Regions from separate parts of the Homo sapiens genome. Here all the other regions are linked to region 3. Evidence: fine-mapped expression QTL. A gene starts in region 3. Each other region holds a variant in brackets. All regions are shown on one strand. Distances are from middle to middle. Region 1 overlaps POR (cytochrome p450 oxidoreductase). Region 2 overlaps POR (cytochrome p450 oxidoreductase). Region 3 holds the start of RHBDD2 (rhomboid domain containing 2).

What was found. PIP is the estimated chance that this variant, and not a neighbour inherited with it, causes the effect.
Region 1: its variant is the best candidate, but not a certain one, in a credible set for the expression of RHBDD2 in whole blood (TOPMed, PIP 0.63).
Region 2: its variant is the best candidate, but not a certain one, in a credible set for the expression of RHBDD2 in tibial artery (GTEx, PIP 0.63).

Annotation. Positions count from the first base shown.
Region 1 is chr7:75,953,017-75,959,925 of GRCh38, forward strand. POR (cytochrome p450 oxidoreductase) reads left to right here. Exons shown (of 16, transcript NM_001395413.1): 2 at 973-1,164. The coding sequence starts at 986. Among named protein-coding and RNA genes, the nearest start is that of SNORA14A, 13 kb to the left of the region's middle. RefSeq lists a silencer at 5,815-6,109. The variant C/T (reference allele first, on the strand shown) is at 3,047.
Region 2 is chr7:75,926,964-75,933,872 of GRCh38, forward strand. The region is part of intron 1 of POR (cytochrome p450 oxidoreductase); the gene reads left to right. Among named protein-coding and RNA genes, the nearest start is that of SNORA14A, 13 kb to the right of the region's middle. RefSeq lists an enhancer at 1,574-1,633. The variant A/G (reference allele first, on the strand shown) is at 3,702.
Region 3 is chr7:75,874,972-75,881,880 of GRCh38, forward strand. It overlaps RHBDD2 (rhomboid domain containing 2), which reads left to right and starts at 4,063. Exons shown (of 4, transcript NM_001040456.3): 1 at 4,063-4,289; 2 at 6,858-6,909. The coding sequence starts at 4,112. RefSeq lists an enhancer at 3,759-4,367 and silencers at 3,914-4,163, 4,264-4,443.

The DNA.
Region 1 (6,909 bases), 78 kb after region 3:
AGCCTGGGCACCATTGAGCACTGAGGGAACGAGACTCCGTCTGCAATCCCGGCACCTCGGGAGGCCGAGGCTGGAGGATCACTCGCGGTTAGGAGCTGGAGACCAGCCCGGCCAACACAGCGAAACCCCGTTTCCACCAAAAAAATACGAGAACCAGTCAGGCGTGGCGGCGCGCGCCTGCAATCGCAGGCACTCGGCAGGCTGAGGCAGGAGAATCAGGCAGGGAGGTTGCAGTGAGCCGAGATGGCAGCAGTACAGTCCAGCTTCGGCTGGGCATCAGAGGGAGACCGTGGAAAGAGGGAGGGGGAGGGGGAGGGGGAGGGACCAGACTTTGTCTCTTAAAAAAAAAAAAAAAAGACTCCCAGGCATAGGAAAGCAGGCATTCACCATAAATCTCATTGTTAACAGGAACTACCTTCATAGCCCAAGGTTTTAGGAATACAGAGACACTCTTGCCAGTCAGGATAGTCCAAGGCTCGTGAATATCAGGAGCCACTCAAGGGCCAGGCCTGGAGACTTGGAACATGCAGGGTTTAGGGCAACCCCCGCCAGCCACACAGCTGGGGAAAGGGTTTGCTGCGAAATGGTCCACTCTTGCGTGCACTTCCTCCCGCCTGCCCCCCGTGCGGTGTCCTTGTGGGATTAGAGGATGTTCCAGCACACTGAGAGTCAGTGGCTGTCATTTTCTCTGTCTTCCAGGGACCCAGTCCCAGCTGCTGCCTTAGCTTGCACCCCAGGACCACCCTGGGCTGGTGCTGACACCACTGGGGGCTGTCTGTTATGTCAGCCCCAGTCCAAGACTGTGGCTGTCTTGGCAGGAACCTGGCTGAGTGAGCCCCTTCTCCTACCCCGTGCAGTGACCATTTCCTGCAGCCCCAGGGGCAAGGCCCAGCATTTAGGTGGGCACCCCAGCCAGCCTCAGGGGCACCCTGCTACCCTCTGCTGACATCTGCTGTTTCTGTCTCCTAACAGTTTCATGATCAACATGGGAGACTCCCACGTGGACACCAGCTCCACCGTGTCCGAGGCGGTGGCCGAAGAAGTATCTCTTTTCAGCATGACGGACATGATTCTGTTTTCGCTCATCGTGGGTCTCCTAACCTACTGGTTCCTCTTCAGAAAGAAAAAAGAAGAAGTCCCCGAGTTCACCAAAATTCAGACATTGTAAGTGCCGCCTCTCAGCCTCCTCTCTCTGTCCCTCTTCTGTCACCACTCCAAGCAGTGTCCTGCATGCGGGCCTCAGGCTGAAAGAAGCAAGGCTCCTTGTAGCATTTTGGGGTGACTCTTGGGTTTTGCCTTCTTGCTAGATTGTGCTTGAGCTCTCCCTTAATCATCTCTTATGTGGGGTTTATAAGGCCCTTTTCTATCTGCTGTTTATATGACCTTCACAGGAAGCACTGCGAAAATGACACCAGTTTACAGATTAAGAACCGGGGGCTCAAGAATGTTAACGGGCCTGCCAGGGTCATTAGCCAGCAATAGCAGCGCTAGAGCTGGAACCCTTTTTTCCATTTATTTATTTATTTATTTATTTGGAGACATGGTCTCACTGTATTGCCCAGGCTGGAGTGCAATGGCGGTGGCACGATCAAGGTTCACTGTAATCTCCACCTCCCAGGCTCAGGCAGTCTTCCCACCTCAGCCTCCCGAGTAGCTGGGACTAAAGGTGTGCACCACTATGCCCAGCTAATTTTTTTTTTTTTTTTTTTGAAGCAGAATCTTGTTCTTTCAACCAGTCTGGAGTACAGCGGTGCGATCTCGGCTCACTGCAACCTCTGCCTCCCAGGCTCAAGCAATTCTTCTGCCTCAGCCTCCTGAGTAGCTTGGATTACAGGTGCCCGCCACCACGCCTGGCTATTTTTTGTATTTTTAGTAGAGACAGGGTCTCACCATGTTGGCCAGGCTGGTCTCAAACTCCTGACCTCAAGTGATCCGCCCACCTCGGCCTCCCAAAGTGCTGGGATTACAGGTGTGAGCCGTTGCGCCCAGTCAATTTTTGTATTTTTTTATAGAGACAGGGATTTGCCATGTCCCGGGCTGGTCTCGAACACCTGGACTCAAGCAATCCGCACACCTTGGTCTCCCAGAGTGTCGGGATTACAGGCGTGAGCCACTGTACCCAGCCTAGAATTGGCATTTTAAAGTCTTTTTAAGGCTGTAGCCACCTGGAAGGCTATGTGCTAATGAGCACAAAATCTTTGGACAGGCCTTATTTTGTTGCTCTTTTAAACTTTTCATGAAGCTTCCTTTTAAGAATAAGTGAAAAAGATGGATTAGTTAAAAGAAAAACGTTAAGGAAATAATAGTATAGATGGTATGTAGACAGAAAAAAATGATACCGAAGGTCTGCCTAAGTGACTGCATCCCTGTCTCTCCAAGATTGATTTCCATAAGCCACACGGAAAAGTCATTCTCCAGATTTTAGGGTCCTGCGGCCAGAATTACTTCCTGCGGTTACGCTTGGCTGTGTTTAACACCAGTCTCAGACTCCAGGGGCCCGCAGCCAGGTTTGAGTGGGGACCTGCCAGGTCAGGTCTGAGCCGAGGGAACTCCAGGGGCACGGGCCTGCTGCCTTCAGGGACTCCCTGGATTTGGCAAGGGGCAGGTCTCAGGGGCAGGATTGGGAGCCATTCTCAGACCAGAACCCCTTTCATTCTGTCTGTCTTCAGGGGACCCAGTCCCAGCTGCAGCCTTAGCTTGCACCCCAGGGCCACCCTGGGCTGGTGCTGACACCAGTGGGGGCCATCTGTCATGTCAGTTCCAGTCCAAGGCTGTGGCTGTCTTGGCAGGAACAAGCCACACAGAAAAGTCATTCTCCAAGGCTGGGCATGGTGAAGCATGCCGCTCACATCAAATCCCGATTCCCTATTCCAATCTGGGTATCAGCCTTCCCCGCCAGAACACTTACAGCCTTCACACCGTAAAGCAGATATTCACACAACACAGTTCTTATACCATGGACAGGGAATTAGTTTTACATTTTTAAAAACTGGGTTCAGGGCCAGGCACAGCGGCTCACGTCTGTAATTCCACCACTTTGGGAGGC[C/T]GAGGCGGGAGAAATCACTTGAGGTCAGGAGTTCGAGACCAGCCTGGCCAACATGGCGAAACCCCGTCTCTACCGAAAATACAAAAACTAGCTGGGCGTGGTGGTGCATGCCTGTAATTTCAGCTACTAGGGAAGCTGAGGCAGAAGAATCGCTTGAACCCAGGAGGCAGAGGTTGCAGTGAGCCAAGAATGCGCCACTGCATTCCAGCCTGGGAGACAGAGTCCGTCTCAAAAACAAAACAAAACAAAACAAAACTGGGTTCAATCTTATCTCCATCATTGACTCACTGAGCAAACATTTCCTGAGGCCCTACCTACAGTGTCCCAGACACTATGCTAAGGTGTGTGGCTGCAGCAGTGAAGAAAATAGATGAATGCTGTCTTCATCAAGCTTACGCTCTAGTGGTGAGTGAACCCTGGGCGAGACCTTAACCTCATTCTGCCTCAGTTTCCTCACCTGCTAAATGGAGGCAGTATTCCCAATCTTGTGGGGCTTTTGTCTTAAATGAGGAAGAGTCTATAAACTCACCTAGCACTGCCCCTGAGGGATAGGAGCTGTGTAGTGTTTGCGTTGATCGTATTTCGTGCCAGGCACTATGACGGGCACGATCAGGACCACAGAGCCAGCATTTATGTTAAGCTGGAAAATGAGGGTGTTGCAACATAGTTTTTTTTTTTTTGAGACAGACTTTTGCTCTTGTCACTCAGGCTGGAGTGCAGTGGTGCAATCTCGGCTCACTGCAACCTCCGCCTCCCGGGTTCAGGCGATTCTCGTGCCTCAGTCTCCCGAGTGCCTGGGACTACAGGCACATGCTACCACGCCTGGCTAATTTTTGTATTTTTAGTAGAGACGGGGTTTCACCATGTTGGCCAGGCTGGTCTCAAACTCCCGACCTCAGGTGAGCTGCCTGCCTCTGCCTCCCATAGTGCTGGGATTATAGGCGTGAGCCACCACACCCGGCCACAGCGTACTTTTTAGAAATGCTTTGTGAACTGCTTTAACCTACATTGTCTAATCAGGGCCTCCTTGCAACAGCGCCGTGCGTTAGGTAGCGTGGGTTGCCTCATTTCTGCTCTCAGAGAGGTTATGGGATGTGCCCAGGGCACAGGCTGGAGAGACAGGCTCCGCCAGCTCTAAGAGAGAAGGAATTGGTGTGGGGATCAGACCAAGTCCTGCAGGAGGGGTGTTGGGCAGGTTCTTAAAGGTAGAGCCACACCCTGAAGCTGAAAGGACTTTAGAGCAGAGGGCCCGATATAGGAAGGGCAGATCAGCTGGAATCCAGCCCATCCTGTCCAGGGCTGGTACACGGGGCATTGCTGGTGTGGAATAGTACTTTTGATAAAAAAGCGTAGTAGTACTCAAGATAAAGAGACCAGGGTCCAGGACCCAGCTCCTGAACTGGCCCTTGTTCCCTCATCTGTAAAATGGAAGTTCCGCCCCACCGCCGTGAGTGAGGACGTGGGTTGGCCCTGGGAGCCTGCGGAGCTTGCCACCAAGGGAGGCAGCATTCCTCTCATAGCTCATCTGTTCTCGCTGTCACCTCCCTGGCCTTACAAGAGGAAGTTGACATAAAACCTGTAGACTGTGGGAGCTGTAGGGTCCCAAAGCACTTGTATTTTTTTGTTGATTCTCACTGTTCCTCTTTGCCAGGATGCTGAAATTCTGTTCCCTCCACCTAATCATGATCTTCTAACCTTATGTGTGTGGAGATATGCAGTTTCCAGAGTCTTGTCTCTTCCCTCATTAAATCACACTGGATGCCTGCTGCAGCCAGGGCTTTTACCTGTACGCTGTACAAGACAAATATTTCTAGTACCATGGCTACATTCTGGACCCTGAAGTTGGGTGCTCAAGGTTGAGTACTGACTCTCCCACATTAGCCATCTGACATCAGCCAGGTGACTTGATCTTTCCAAGTCTGTGTCCCCAACTGTAAGCTGGAGGTAGTAGTAGTACTTACCTCATAAGGCTGTGAAAACTGAGTTAATCCATCATAGAGCTCTTTGCTCAGTTCCTGGTGCATAGTAGGCTCTCAGGTGTTATGGATTGTTACTATTTATTTATTTATTTTGAGGCAGGGTCTCACTCTGTCGTTCAGGCTGGAATACGCTGGCACGATCTCGGCTCACTGCAACCTCCGCCTCCCAGGCTCAAGAGATCCTCCCACTTTGGCCTCCCAAGTAGCTGGGACTACAGGCGTGCACCACCACCCTTGGCTAATTTTTATATTTTTTGTACAAATGGACATCTAACAATGTTGCCCAGGCTGGTCTGAAACTCCTGGGCTCAAGCAGTCTGCCTGCCTCGGCCTCCCAAAGTGCTGGGATTACAGGCGTGAGCCACCATGCCTGGAGTGTGTTATTATTTTTATCCTTTTTATTAATACCATCTCCAGTCTTACAAGAGCCCTTCCACGAAGACATGAGCAGCCCATTTTGCGGATGAAGAAACCGAGGTGCCAGGGATTGCAGAGTTTGCCCAAGGCCACCTAACTTCTAAATAGCAGCAGAGTTGGCTTTTGAATGAAGTCTGCAAGCTCCACAAGCCATGTTTTCTCTACTTTGCCATGCTGCTCCTAATTTAGTGTTAATAGGCCTCCTACGATAGTGTTAGTCTCCTAAGATAGTGTTAATAGGCCTGGCATGGTGGCTCACGCCTGTAATCCCAGTGCTTAGGGAGGCTGAGGCACAAAGATTGCTTGAGCCAGGAGTTCAAGACCAGCCTGAGCAACATAGGGAGACCCCCACCCCCCCGCCATCTCTACAATAAACAAAAAAGAGTGGTGTTAATTTGTTAATTTACCGACAAGGAGAGTATTCCTTATCTGAAGTGCTTGCCAGAAGTGTTTCAGATCTTGGACTTTGGAATGTTTGCATTATACTCACCAGATGAGCATTTCTTATCTGAAAATCTGAAATGCTCCAATGATTCTTCCCTTTGAGGATCATGTTGACGCTCAAAAAGTTTCAGATTTCAGATTTTAGATTAGGGACATTCAGCCTGTAGATGTTATTTTACAGAGCAGGAAGTTGGGTGTAGTGGTTCACACTTGTGATCCCAGCTCTTTGGGAGGCCAAGGCAGGAGGATTGCTTAAGCCCAGGAGTTGGAGACCAGCCTGGGCAACGTAGCAAGGCCCTGTCTCTATAAAAAATAGGAGAAAACTGAGGCTCAGAAAGGTCACCTAGCTGATACAACCAGGCCTCAAGCCTAGATCTCCTATTCTAAATCCCACATCAGTGTCCCTGGCTACCGGTATTTCAGTGAGCACAGGTGATTTCTGTTATAGCCACAGAGCAGTAGGGAGTAATAGGGCTTAGTGTGAGGAAGGTATGTGGCCCAGGGCTATATCAGGAACTCTCACCATGATTTCTGGTGGCTTCTAGAATTGGCATTTATTTATTTTGTTTTAGAGACACGGTCTCGCCCTGTCACCCAGGCTGGAGTGCTATGGCGCGATATCAGTTCACTGCAACCTCTGCCTCTGGGGCTCAAGCGATTCTCTTGCTTCAGCCTCCCAAGTTGCTGGGATTACAGGCACCCACCATGATGCCCGGCTAATTTTTGTATTTTTAGTAGAGATGGAGTTTCACCACGTTGGCCAGGCTGGTCTTAAACTCCTGACCCCAAGTGATCCATCCGCCTGGGCGTCCCAAAATACTGGGATTACAGGTGTGAGCCACTGTACGGGGCCAAACACATTTTTAAAACAAAAAACCCAGTGGGATTTTTGTTGGAATTGGATTGAATCTGTATATTAATATGGGAAGAGTTGACATCCTACAATATTGAGCTTTCTATTCCATGAACATTGTTTTATCCCTCCCGGGGAGGTCTTTTGGACTGTTTGTAATAGCAATTAAT
Region 2 (6,909 bases), 52 kb after region 3:
ATGTCAGCTGCAAAATGAACCCCAGGTCATTCAGTGAGGCTGCGTCTACCTGTAACTTTGCCATGTCCTAAAAAGGTCTTGAAGGGCAGACAGATGGTTGATAGAATAGCTCTGGAGACAGTTGGTCTGGGTTTGAATCCTGGTTCCACCATTTATCGATTCCCTGATGTTGGACAAGGTCCTTTAACCTTTGTGATAATTACAGCTCCTGTATGTCAGAGCAGTGTTAAAACACTGTTCATTAGTTAAAAACAAATCAGGGCCGGGCTTGGTGGCTCACACCTGTAATCCCAGCACTTTGGGAGATTGAGGTGGGCTAATGGCTTGAGCCCAGGAGTTTGAGACCAACCTGGGCAACATGGCGAAACCCCGTATCTTAACAAAAAATTAATGGGGCTTGGTGGTGGGTGCCTGTAGTCCCAGCAACGCAGGAGGCTGGGCTGTCATCACGCCACTGTACAGCAGCCTGGCTGACAGAGTGAGACCCTGTCTCAAAAAAAAAACAACAACAAAAAAAACCCCAAAAAACAAAAACCAGGTCAGGAGTGGGGAGTGACTGCTGATGAGTGTGGGATTTCCTTTTGAGGGTATGAAGATGCTCTGGAATCTGGTAGTGGTGATGCTTGCACAATGGGTGAATATAGTGAAAACCACTGAATTTTATACTTTAAAATGATGAATTTTATGGTGTGTGAATTCTGTCTCAATTTTTTTTTTTTTTTTTTGAGACTGACTCTCGCTCTGTGGTCCAGGCTGGAGTGCAGTGGCCCAATCTCAGCCCACTGCAACCTCTGCCTCCCGGGTTCCAGTGATTCTCTTGCCTCAGCCTCCTGAGTAGCTGGGATTACAGGTGCCCACCACCACACCCAGCTAATTTTTGTATTTTTAGTAGAGACGGGGTTTCACCATGTTGGCTAGACTGGTCTCGAACTCCTGACCTCAAGTGATCTTGCCCTCCTCGGCCTGAGGCATGAGCCACTGCTCCCAGTCTCTATCTCAGGTTTCTTTTTTTTTTTTTTTTTTTTTGAGACGGAGTCTTGCTGTGTTGCCCAGGCTGGAGTACAGTGGAACAATCTTCACTTACCACAACCTCCACCTCCTGGGTTCAAGTGATTCTCCTGCCTCAGCCTCCCAAGTAGCTGGGATTACAGGCACACACTGCCATACCAGCTAATTTTTGTATTTTTAGTAGAGATAGGGTTTCACTATGTTGGCCAGGCTGGTCTCGAACTCCTGACCTTGTGATCCACCCGCCTCGGCCTCTCAAAGTACTGGGATTACAGGTGTGAGCCACCACACCCGGCTTCTATCTCAGTTTTTAAAAATCAGGTTTATAGGTCATGAGTTCTTGAGCAACTAGACTCCCACCAGTTGTGCCTCCAGTTCCCTGTCATCTTGAGCTAGTCGTGGACACCTGCAGCAGACGTATGTTCACTGCGTGTTTCTGGGCTCCCACACATTTCTAAGCCCTCTTGAAGTTAACTTCGGGTAATGGCCTGTGAGAGGAAGTCACGTATGTCACTTCTGGATGGAAGCATTTAAGAGCCAGGGCCAGGCCCTCCAGCAATCTTCTTCCCATCAGGACGGCCCGGAAGTTGAACATTGAGATGGTGGAATGACAAGAGAAAAAGCTGCTTGAACCACTGAGTCACCTTATGGAGGCCAAGGGCCTAGCGGAGTCACCCTGCCCACACTAGACGTTGCTTAGAGTTCAGCTTGAAGCCATGTGATGTGGGTCACTGCCCAGGAGGACTTTTTTCTAGTGCTGTGGCCTGGAGGACTTTCCCTCTAGCCTCTCATGCAGGTGTACTGTGTGATGTGGTGGGTCTCTTTTCTAACAGGAAGCCCCAGTGGGTGCAGCAGAGCTGTGGCTCTCCCAACTCAAGCACATCTCCACAGCTAGCTGCCGGCAAGTACGCAGCTCTCTTGGTGGTGTCTGAGAAATGGAGCATTAAGCCCTCAGTCTAAAGGAGCATCTTGGGTAACCTAGTGTACCTGTCTCGAGCAGCAGGCATAGTACAATGTCAGGCCAGCACCAAAGGATTTTGTCTTCCTTGTAAGACAACATGGGGCAATAGAAAGCTCTGTATGGGCAATCTTGTAAATGGTATAATAATTATGATGCTTTTATAGACACCGCATGACCGTCCTTAGTCACCATAGCGATGGGATCTAATTATTACTGACTTGTTCATGTTGTGGGTTTTTAGTAACCCTACTGCCCACATTCTAGAATTTAAACACATGCTGTGAATATCCAAGCACAGGTCACAGAGATGACCTAGAGTTGGTGCTCAGTACACTTTTTTTGTTTTTTTGAGACCGAGTCTGGCTCTATCGCCCAGGCTGGAGTGCAGTGGTGCGATCTCAGCTCAGCGCAACCTCCGCCTCCTGGGTTCAAGTGATTTTCCTGCCTCAGCCTCCTGAGTAGCTGGGATTACAGAGCATGCACCACCATGCCCAGCTACTTTTTGTATTTTTAGTTTCACCATGTTGGCCAGGCTGGTCTTGAACTCCTGACCTCAGGTGATCTTCCCACTTTGGCCTCCCAAAGTGCTGGGATAACAGGTGTGAGCCACCGCGCCCGGCCTCAATACACATGTGATTGCCTTGAATGCATAGCAATGACCGAACATCAAGGTGAAACGCAAGCAACGCTGGGGAAGGAATGACCAATACGGTGCCCTCTGAGGCCTCAGCCCAGGGGCCATCTGGCTTGTCTGTCTCATTAGTACCATTGTTCCCTGTCAGCTTGTGGAAGAGCTGATTTGAAACCACCTGTTGGACCGAAGGAAGCCACTGACCAATACCTGTTCTGTGGGTGAAGCTGTCGCCCAGAGCACCCCCTGTGACTCCGTGGTCCTCTATGCACTAGTAGAAACTCTGTTTTTGCTGAATGGCACAGCCCACTACTAGCTGAATGTGGGGTGACAGTAGCCAGCATGAGAACCATCAAGACCATTATGGGCCAGGAGTTGGGTCACCCCTTCCTTGTCTAGGGTTGCAACAAGAAGTGACAGAGAGGGTCCCACAAGGTCTTTAAATCTCCCTCTGTAAGTTGTGGGAATTTCAGTAACTTGCTTGGTCCTTAGGGCTTTGAATCTGAGTCTGTAAAATGGGTGAAATAATATTTCTCTAAACAGGTTTATCATATGAATCAAAAGAAATTGTAGAAGGTGCCTAGCCAGGGTGCTTGGCACGTAGTAGGTGTTGAGTGAACGTTGGTTGCATTGCTTGGCTCCTCCTTAGTGAGCCTGTAGTAAACACAGTGCTGTGTAGACTAGGCAGGCCTTTCTCTCTTCTGCAATTCTGAGTGCTTTTTCTTAAGAACCAAGGGGTACTAACCCTTGTTTTAGAGACATTCAGAAACTAGCCAGGCGTAGTGGTGTGCACCTGTAGTCCCAGCTCCTCGGGAGGCTGAGGTGGGAGGATCACTTGATCCTGGGAGGTAGAGGTTGTGGTGACCTATGATTGCACCACTGCACTCCAGCCTGGACAACAGAGCAAGACCCTGTCTAAAAATAAATAAAATAAAATAAATAAATAAATGTAAACAAGGAAATAGAAAACGTTTATACTGATGGAGTCTCGCTGTGTCGCCCAGGCTGGAGTGCAGTGGCACGATCTTGGCTCACTGCAGCCTCCACCTCCCGGGTTCAAGTGATTCTCCTGCCTCAGCCTCCCAAGTAGCTGGAATTACA[A/G]GCATGTGCCACCACGCCCGTCTAATTTTGTATTTTTAGTAAAGACAGGGTTTCTCCATGTTGGTTAGGCTGGTCTCCAACTCCTGACCTCAGGTGATCCGCCCACCTCGACCTCCCAGAGTGCTGGGATTACAGGCATGAGCCACCTTGCCCGGCCCTTATGTATTTATTTTTTAAAGACAGGGTCTTGCTCTGTCACCCAGGCTGGAGTGCAGTGTTGGGATCATATCTCACTGTAACCCCCAATTCCTGGGCTCAAGTGATCCTCTAACCTCAGCCTCCTGAGTAGCGGGGACTACAGGTGTGCACCACCACACCTCACTAATTTTTTAATTTTCTGTAGAGATGGCGTTTCACTATGTTACCCAGGCTGGTCTCAAACTCCTGGCCTCAATCCATCCTCCCGCCTCAGCCTCTCAATGTGCTGGGATTACAGGCATGAGCCACTGTGCCTGTCCAGCAACAATATTTATAACAGCCCCCAAAAGGAAACAATCCAAGTATCCATCACCCATTGAATGGATAAACAAAATGTGGTATATCCATACGATGAAATGTTACTCAGGCATGAAGAGGAATGAAGGGCTTTTATGCATGCCACAACGTGGATGGACCTTGAAGACATTATTCTAAGTGAAAGAAACCAGTTACAAAGGGCCACTTATTGTGTGATTTTATTTATTTATTTATTTATTTATTTATTTATTTATTTATTTATTTGAGACACAGTCTCCCTCTCTCACGCAGGCTATAATGCAGTGGTGCAGTCTTGGCTCACTGCAACCTCCACCTCCCAGGTTCAAGCGATTCTCCTGCCTTAGCCTCCCGAGTAGCTGGGATTACAGGCGCCTGTCATCACACCCGACTAATTTTTTTGTATTTTTAGTAGAGACGGGGTTTCACCACGTTGGACAGGTTGGTCTCGAACTCCTGTCCTCAAGTGATCCTCCCGCCTTGGTCTCCCAAAGTGCTGGGATTACAGGTGTGAGCCTCCGCACCTGGCCTGTTTTTCCTTTTAAAGCCGTGACTCTATTTTCCCTTCTGGCCTTGGTGTGTGCTCTTCCCCACTCTGTCTCCTTCCCTTTTGAGTCCTTTCCATCAGGAAGCCCTCCTTAACCACTACCAGACTCACCCACACATGAACCGGCTCCCACCATCTGTTCTGTTTATTTTGGCAAGGAAATAAAGATGTGTCTTCCACCAGAAAAGCTGAGGCCACTACTCGATTCAGTTTGCCCTCCCTGCTGGGGCACAGGTGTCATGGCCTCCCTTAAGTGCTTATTAATTCCTGTGTTTCAGCTTTCATCCTTCCACCTGCTGCTAGGCCTCTGTGCACACAGTGCTTTGTGGAATTGCTCCCGTCTCTTCAGCTTAGCAGCGTGCCTTGAAGAGGAAGAGCTGCAGAGAAATTTTGAAAATAAATTGCTTTTTGAAAAATAATTTGACAGTAAGTCAGGGACCTTGAAAATATTTGTTCCCTTTGATTCAGAAATATTTCTAAGACAAATTCAGAAATTCTTTTTTTTTTTTTTTGAGACAAATTCTGTCTCTGTCTGCCCAGGCTGGAGTGCAGTGGTGCAGTCTTGGCTCACTGCAACCTCCGCCTCCCAGGTTCAAGTGATTCTCATGCCTCAGCCCCCCGAGTAGCTAGAACTGCAGGTGTGCACCAACACGCCCAGCTAATTGTTGTATTGTTTTATAGAAACAGGGATTTGTTGTGTTGCCCAGGCTAGTCTTGAACTCCTGAGCTTAAGCAATCTGCCTGCCTCGGCCTCCCAAAGTGCTGGGACTACAGGCATGTACCACTGCGCCTGGCCAGAATTTCTATTTTAAGGAACTTATCAGTGGCTTACAAAGACTTATGTTGAAAATATATCAATCCTGTTTTTCATGACTTTTTTAAAAACAGTTTTAATTTTTTTTTCTGTACTAGAAAATGCACTGTAACTTGACATTGTAATAGTGAAAATATAATGACATTTGAGAATTTATAACAAGAAAATGTTCACAATTTAATATATGAAAAGTAGAACAAAATTATATGTAGTATAAGACCGATCATGTTAAAAACATGGGCGGGCACGGTGGCTCACACCTGTAATCCCAGCACTTTGGGAGGCCGAGGTGGGTGGATCACGAGGTCAGGAGTTTGAGACCAGCCTGGCCAACATAGTGAAACCCCATCTCTACTACAAATACAAAGATTAGCCGAGCATGGTGGCAGGCACCTGTAATCCCAGCTACTCCAGAGGCCGAGGCAGGAAAATCCCTTGAACTCGGGAGGTGGAGGTTGCAGTGAGCTGAGCGAGATGGCACCACTGCATTCCAGCCTGGGCAACAACAGAGCGAGACTCCATCTGAAAAAAAAAAAAAAAGGAAAAGTATGTCCTGTAATATGCATGTAAAAAACTGGTAGAATGAAACCAAATAAGAGTTTGGATTATGTTTTCCTTAATTTTATGTTTTAAAATATAGCACATTTTCTTCACTAAACATGCTTTTAAATTTTTTAATTGACAAAGTTGTATATATTTATAGTGTATGGCATATTGTTTTGAAGTCTGGTAGAATGGCTAAATTGAGTTAATTAACATATGCATTACCTCACACCTTTTTTTGTGGTGAGAACACTTAAAATCTACTCTTAGCAGTCTTCAAGAGTACAACACATTGCTACTAACTATAGTCACCATGTTATACAATAGGTCTTTGTTTTTTTTTTTTTTTTTTTTTTTTTTTTTTGAGCGGAGTTTCACTCTTGTTGCCCAGGCTGGAGTGCAATGGCGCGATCTCGGCTCACTGCAACCTCTGCCTCCCAGGTTCAAGCGATTCTCCTGCCTCAGCCTCTGGAGCAGCCAGGATTACAGGCACCTGCCACCACGCCTGGCTAATTTTTTGTATTTTTAGTAGAGATGGGGGTTTCACCATGTTGCCCAGGCTGGTTTCTAACTCCTGACCTCAGGTGATCCACCTGCCTGGGCCTCCCAAAGTGTTGGGATTACAGGCGTGAGCCACCGCACCCAGCCTCAGTAGGTCTCTTGAACTGTATTTAATTTTAACTTTTTGTTTTGAAATAGTTTCAGATTTGCAAAAAAGTTGCAACAGCAGTGCTAACAATTCTTGAGCGCCCTTTACCCAGATTTCCCCATTGTTAATATTTTACCATATTTGCTTTATCAATGTGTGTGTGTGTGTGTGTAGATATATT
Region 3 (6,909 bases):
TAAAAATACAAAAATTAGCAGGGCGTGGTGGCATGTGCCTGTAATCCCAGCTACTGGGGAGGCTAAGGCAGGAGAATCACTTGAACCTGGGAGGTGGAGGTTGCAGTGAGCCAAGATCACGCCACTGCACTCCAGCCTGGGCGACAGAGTAAGACTCTGTCTCAAAAAAATAAAAAGAAATAGAACAACTTTAGAGATCTAATGACCCAAGTTCAAATCCTAGCTCTTCCACTAACTCACAGTGTGACCTCCTCACATCCTATTCGTCCCTCGGTCAATCTTATCTGTTTTCTTCATCAAAACCCTGCAAGATAAGACTTAGTTCCCATTTTATAGATGAGGAAACTGAGGCTCCCTTACCCAAGATCACTCAGGCAGCGAGTGAAAGAGCCAGGGTGAGGTCCTGCTTCCTCCTGACTTCCAGCCTGAGCTCCACCAGCTCCACACTGGCTGCTTCTCAAATGCTAATGTAGGAGCCATTAATGTCTCCTTTAAGGGAACATTAAAGGAAATGGCCAGTATAACATGGTATTTATCTCCTGGTTTTTGGCTTGGCTCATGCCTGGAATCCCAACACTTTGGGAGGCCCAGGCACGAGGATCACTTGAGCCCAAGAGTTTGAGACCAGCCTGGGCAACATAGTGAGACCTCTGTCTGTACAAACAACAACAACAAAAAGGCCCAGTGGGCTGGGCGTGGTGGCTCAAGCCTGTAATCCCAGCATTTTGGGAGGCTGAGATCTCAGGCGGATCACCTGAGATCGGGAGTTCGAGACCAGCCTGACCATCATGGTGAAACCCCGTTTCTGCTAAAAATGCAAAATTAACCGGGCATGCTAGCGCATGCCTGTAATCCTAGCTACTCGGGACGCTGAGTCAGGAGAATCGCTTGAACCGGGGAGGCGGAGGTTGCGGTGAGCCAAGATCACACCATTGCACTCCAACCTGGGGAACAAAAGCGAAACTCAGTCTCAAAAAAAAAAAAAAAAAGTGCAGTGTCTCACACCTGCAATCCTAGGTTTCCCTTAAGGGAAACGTGAATATCTCCTGCAACTGCCCTCTCCGAGCCTAAACCCTCTGCACAGCAAATGCAGAAAACTCTTTCTACAGAGAGCTAGGTGGGCTGACTGGCCATGCCATCCTAGACTGGTGTACCTCAGGTCTCCTCTTCAAAAAATATCTTGAAATTCTTGCCAGAAATTCAGTGTGAAATGCATTCGGGATGGTGGCTGTTGTTATAACAGTCCCCAGGGGTCTCAATTACGTGAGAACCCTCGGCTTCTGGACAAGAGACAAGGAAGGGAAGTAGGTCACATCCCAAAGGCATCAGGGCTAATAACTTTGCATTGAACATTTTCTGTGGCCCCACTGTGTGCTAGGTGCCAGGGCTGTGGATACAGACACAGGTATAAATCAGACATGGCTTCTGCCCTTGGTAAGCTCACAATTACGGGCACAAATATGCAATGATAGTATAATATGGGAAGTGCCTCAGGAGGCTGAGGCAGCGAACTGCTTGAACCAGGGAGGAGGAGGTTACAGTGAACAGACATTACAGCACTGCACTCCAGCCTGGGTGACAGAGCAAGACTTCGTCTCAAAAAAAAAAAAAAAAAATTCCTGGAAGACTTGTTGCCTAATTTTAAGTTACTTAACTTCTCTGTATCTCCATTGCTTCATCTGTAAAACGGGCGTAATTACAGAACCAGCCTCACAAGGGTTGTGAAAATGTAATGAGTAACTACATAAAAAGCACACAACAGGCTAGGCATGGTGGCTCACACCTGTCATCCCAGCACTTTGGGAGGCCAAGGCGGGACGATTGCCTAAGCCCAGGAGTTCAAGACCAGCCTGGGCAACAGAGCAAGATCCCATCTCTACAAAAAAGAAGCAGCTAGCTAGGTGCGGTAGCACGCACCTGTGGTTCCAGCTACTTGGGAGGCTGAGGCAGGAGGATACCATGAGCCCGGGAGGTCAAGGCTGCAGTGAGCTATGATTGTGCTACTGAAGCAGGACACACAAGCCCCAAAATTTAGCCTCCTTCCTTCAGAGCCAGCAGGAGCTTCTAAGCTATGGGGGGCAGCAGTTACAGCTGAGTCAAACCAAAGCCTGCAGCCAAGGGCAAGGAGCTGATAACACTAGGGTGGGTGTGTGGGGAAGGAGCCAAATACTTCTACCATGTGAGGGGAGGGAGTACTGGGCAGGGTCACTGGAGAAAGCGAAAAAGGTAGTACCCTTGAAGGTACTGCTGGGCACAGTGGCTCATGTCTGTAATTCCAGGACTTTGAGAGGTCAAGGCAGGCTTATCACCTGAGGTCAGGAGTTCGAGACCAGCCTGGCCAATGTGGTGAAATCCCATATCTACTAAAAATGCAAAAATTAGCTGGGCGTGGTGATGCACACCTGTAGTCCCAGCTACTTGGGACTCGGGAGGCTGAGGCACAAGAATCACTTGCATCTGGGTGGCAGAGGTGGCAGTGAGCAGAGATCACGCCACTGCACTCCAGCCTGGGTGACAGAGTGAGACTCTTGTCAAAAAAAAAGGAAGGTCTACCTTAAACAGCTGTTCTCCAGCAAAAGCACTTTTCAAACTGTAAAGTGCTGAAATAGATCTCGGTTATGAGTGTTCTATTACATCCCTAACTTTTGAGTCCCTTCCATTGAATCCCTCTCCCGTTTCCTGTCCCTTTTCCTTTTTTTTTTTTCCGAGATACAGTCTTGCTCTGTCACCCAGGCTGGAGCGCAGTGGTGCGATCTCGGCTTGCTGCAACCTCCGCCTCCTGGGTTCAAGCGATTCTCCTGCCTCAGCCTCCGGAGTAGCTGGGATTACAGGCACGCGCCACCATGCCGGGTTAATTTTTGTAGTTTTATTAGAGACGGGGTTTCACCATGTTGGCCAGGCTGGTCTCTAATTCTTGACCTCGTGATCCGCCCGCCTCGGCCTCCCAAAGTGCTGGGATTGCAGGCGTGAGCCACCGTGCCCAGCCTCCTGCCCCTTTTCTTCAATATGAAGATAAAGCTGCCCCTGGCTGTACTGGAGGCCAATTCCGGGCCATAGCAGGAGGAACTGAGTTCTAATTCTGTCTTTGCCATGTAACTGAATTACCCAGGGCCCTCCCTAGTCCTGTTTCCTCTTTGGTGTAATAGGGATGAATACAGATGGGAAGATCGTGATATGAAAGAGTTCTGTGAGCTGTAAGGCATAATAATCATGAGGTATTATTACAGGACCAACAGGTGCCTAGGCCCGCTGTGCAATAACAGACCAGTTACACTGAGGAAGCAGGGTTATCAGCAGAAAAAGGGTTTAAAGATGGCAGGGTGCCTAGGAGGAGACGCAGGGAGACCAACAAATCCATCTTCCCCAAGGAGTTCCGGGCTGGGATTTTAAAGGGCATTGTGAAGGGTGAGGGGCTGGAAAATTGGGGTCATCGACTGGTCAGGGTAAGGGGGTTGAAATCCTCAGGATATGGAAACTGCAGTCCCCATTGAGTCTTGCTTCTGTGGGCTCCTTCAGAACAACTGGTGTCAGTAATTATGCTGGTATGCGGGACCTGAAAGAATATCTCCAAGGGAAAACGTTTCATAATGTTCAAGTTGTTATCTATGGAGTTAAGGGGAATTGTAATCTTGTGACAGGGTCTACGTGATTCTAGGACAGACGATGGGCACCTATCATAGCTGATACACAGAGCTATGAGCAAGCAGGTCGGAGAGCAAGGTGACCTAGTGATGAACGCAGAGTGTGCTGCAAGCTTCGTTTATTTTCGTTTTTCCCCCTCCCTTCTTCCCTGATTAATTTCCTAAAGTTTATAGGAGCAGTTTCAGTACCAGCCCGAGTAGGATGGAATCAAACACGGTGCTGGAACATTCCTACCCGGAAGTGGCCCCGACCCCCCTCCCCCCGTCCCGGCCTCCCACGCACGGGGGGGGGGGGGGGGGGGGCTGATCGGCGCTACCGGATTGGACAACTTGGCATGGGGCGGGGCCTCTGGGAGGCGTGGCCTCCGGCCGGCTCCTCTGCTGTTGCCAAGGGAAACTGCCGCGAGGAGGCGGAAGGAGCAGAGGACCGGCAGCCGGCGTCGAGGCGGGGCGCGGGAACGACGGCGGCCATGGCGGCCTCGGGGCCCGGGTGTCGCAGCTGGTGCTTGTGTCCCGAGGTGCCATCCGCCACCTTCTTCACTGCGCTGCTCTCGCTGCTGGTTTCCGGGCCTCGCCTGTTCCTGCTGCAGCAGCCCCTGGCGCCCTCGGGCCTCACGCTGAAGTCCGAGGCCCTTCGCAACTGGCAAGGTGAGCAGGGGCGGGCCGGGATCGCGGGGCGAGTCCTTGTCCTCCGACTTTGCCGGTTCCTGGGCTCTAGCCTCCGGGACTCGCCCCTTCAGGCCTCACCGCCAGTCTCCCCCTGTCTCGGTCCTCATCACCATGCCCGCCCCCCGGAGGACCGACCTCCAGCACCGTCTCTTGCTCTCCGTGTTCCACACCTTTGTCTGCAGACCCCATCTTCGTCATCACTGTAATCCCTTCCCTACCCGAATTTGTTCCCTTCCCTGTCGCCACCAGACTGGTTAAGGCCCCAAATCCATTCGCTAGCAAATCCATGCTCGCTCTCCAAGGGTAAAGATTTTTCGTCTCCCCCTCCCATTTCACATACACACCTACGTCTGCTTTAGGCCTAAGCCCCACTGAAAAACGTTTTTCTCTCACCTACATCACGACAATTGGACTTTATCCACAAACCCCTATAAGCCCTATAAACGTCCTGCCCTCTTGAGATTTGGAATTTCTTCTGCTTTTTCATCTGTATCTTAATCTTGACTGCCATTCCCAGCTCATGGGGGTACCAGGGTGTCTTCTGCCTTTGGAGAGAAGTGTTTGTTTTTCTCTAGGGGAGAGAAATTTTGCAGACCAATTAAGTATAAACATCCATTCCTGAAAGACATTCCTAGTCTCCGTGTCTTCCTCATTTTCTCGAGAGGAACACAGGAAATTTGCATATCTCCTGCTGTTTTGCAAAGCACACACACTGATATGTATTAATTTCGTTTAACCCTCACAAGGATCCCATGACGTAGGACCTGTTATTGGCCCGTTATCTAGATAAGATTGAGGTTTCATGCAGAGAATCGCAGAGCTGTTGCGTCATGCAATTGAGATAGGAATCTATATTTTTTTTTTTATTCTGTGATGTTTTGGAACTAGAGCCTTCGGGTAGATAATCTCCAAATCATGTACAGTTGCTTCTAGAATCTTTTCATGTTTATACTTGGAATTTCAGTTTTGGAAATACTCAACAAATAATGAAGTACTCTTCAGATAATGAAGCCTCTGGTGATGGCCAGACTGAGGTATATGGTTCCATAGCCTGCTTCCCCACTCCAATCTAAAACTGTTCCCCCCACCCTAGGTATACATAGCACCACCTCACAGACAGAAGCAAAATGCCAACCTAACCTTAACCTCCCACTTTCTGGGGTTCACTGCTTCCCTGGGTGTGGGTTTCGTGGATATGTGAGCGTTAGAGACGTAAGGGACCTTTGAAGTCCTCAATCTAACTCTTGTTACTTTACAGTGAGGAAACTGACGCCTAGAGGACCTGTGACATGATTAAACTCAGCCAGCCTGGATGTAATAGAGCCAAGATTCCACTCCAAGTCTTTAGACTCCCAAGTCCAATATTACCATCAGTTCTTTGGTCTCTCTCCTTGAGTTTAGTCGTATTTGGGCATGCAGGGACATAAAAATACTTAAGAGATAACCACTTCTAAAATTTTTTTAGAGATAGGGTCTTCGTCTTACCCAGGCTGGAGTGCAGAGATGCAATCATAGCTCACTGCAGCGTTCAACTCCTGGAATCAAGCGAGCCTCCTGCCTCAGCCTCCCAAGTAGCTGGGACTACAAGTACACATCATCACACCTGACTAATTTTTAAATTTTTTTTAAAGACGGGGGTCTCACTATGTTACCTAGGCTGGTCTTGAACTCCTGGGCTCAAGTGATCCTTCCACCTAAGCCTCCCAAAATGCTGGGATTACAGGTGTGAGCCACCATGCCTGGCGATAACTGCTTTTAGAAAAATAAAAGGCCAGGAATGATGGTTCGTATGTGTAGTTTCAGCACTTTGGGAATTCAAGGCAGGAGGATCACTGGAGGCCAGGAGTTCAAGGCTAGCCTGGGCAACGTAGCAAGACTTTGTCTCTACAAATAAAAATTTAAAAAAAGGAAAAGGAGGATTCTTTGATGTCTTATTACATATAAAGCATCAGTTTACCTGTGAGATCGGATAAGCACTTTCTGAGGAGACTTATAATTTCTATAATCTTTATTGTTAATGATAGTGTTATAATTCTTACAGCTGCAAAATAATTCATGGTCCCTTTTTTCTTCCTCTGAACAGCCACTATGGAAGGAGGGGTCAGGATTACAGCAGAGGAGACTGGCACACAGAGTGTTAAGTGACACCCACTCAATCCACCCCGAAGCTGTTACACTTAATTAACCCTCAAACTGCCCAGTGAGGTAGGTCAGTATGAAAACCTGAAAAAGGATTATAAAGCACTTTACAAATTCAGAGACTGCCCTCTACCGAAAAGTATTATTTTTTTCCCTCTGGAAGTCAGTTACCGCTAAGAGTTGCACCAGGCCTGGGGAAGTGTAGGGATTAGATATTCATGCCTCTCCTTTGAGGCTCTGGGTCCTTCATTGTTGAACGCACTGCTTGTATTGCCTCCTGCTGCGACTCACTGGCTCTCACTTCTCTGTCACGGAGGGGGGCTCTCTGCCTTTCCTAGGCGGCTTATAACCTGGCTTCCCTCCTGGGAGCAACCCGCCGCCAGGCCTCTAACCCGACTCCCTCTGCAGTTTACAGGCTGGTAACCTACATCTTTGTCTACGAGAATCCCATCTCCCTGCT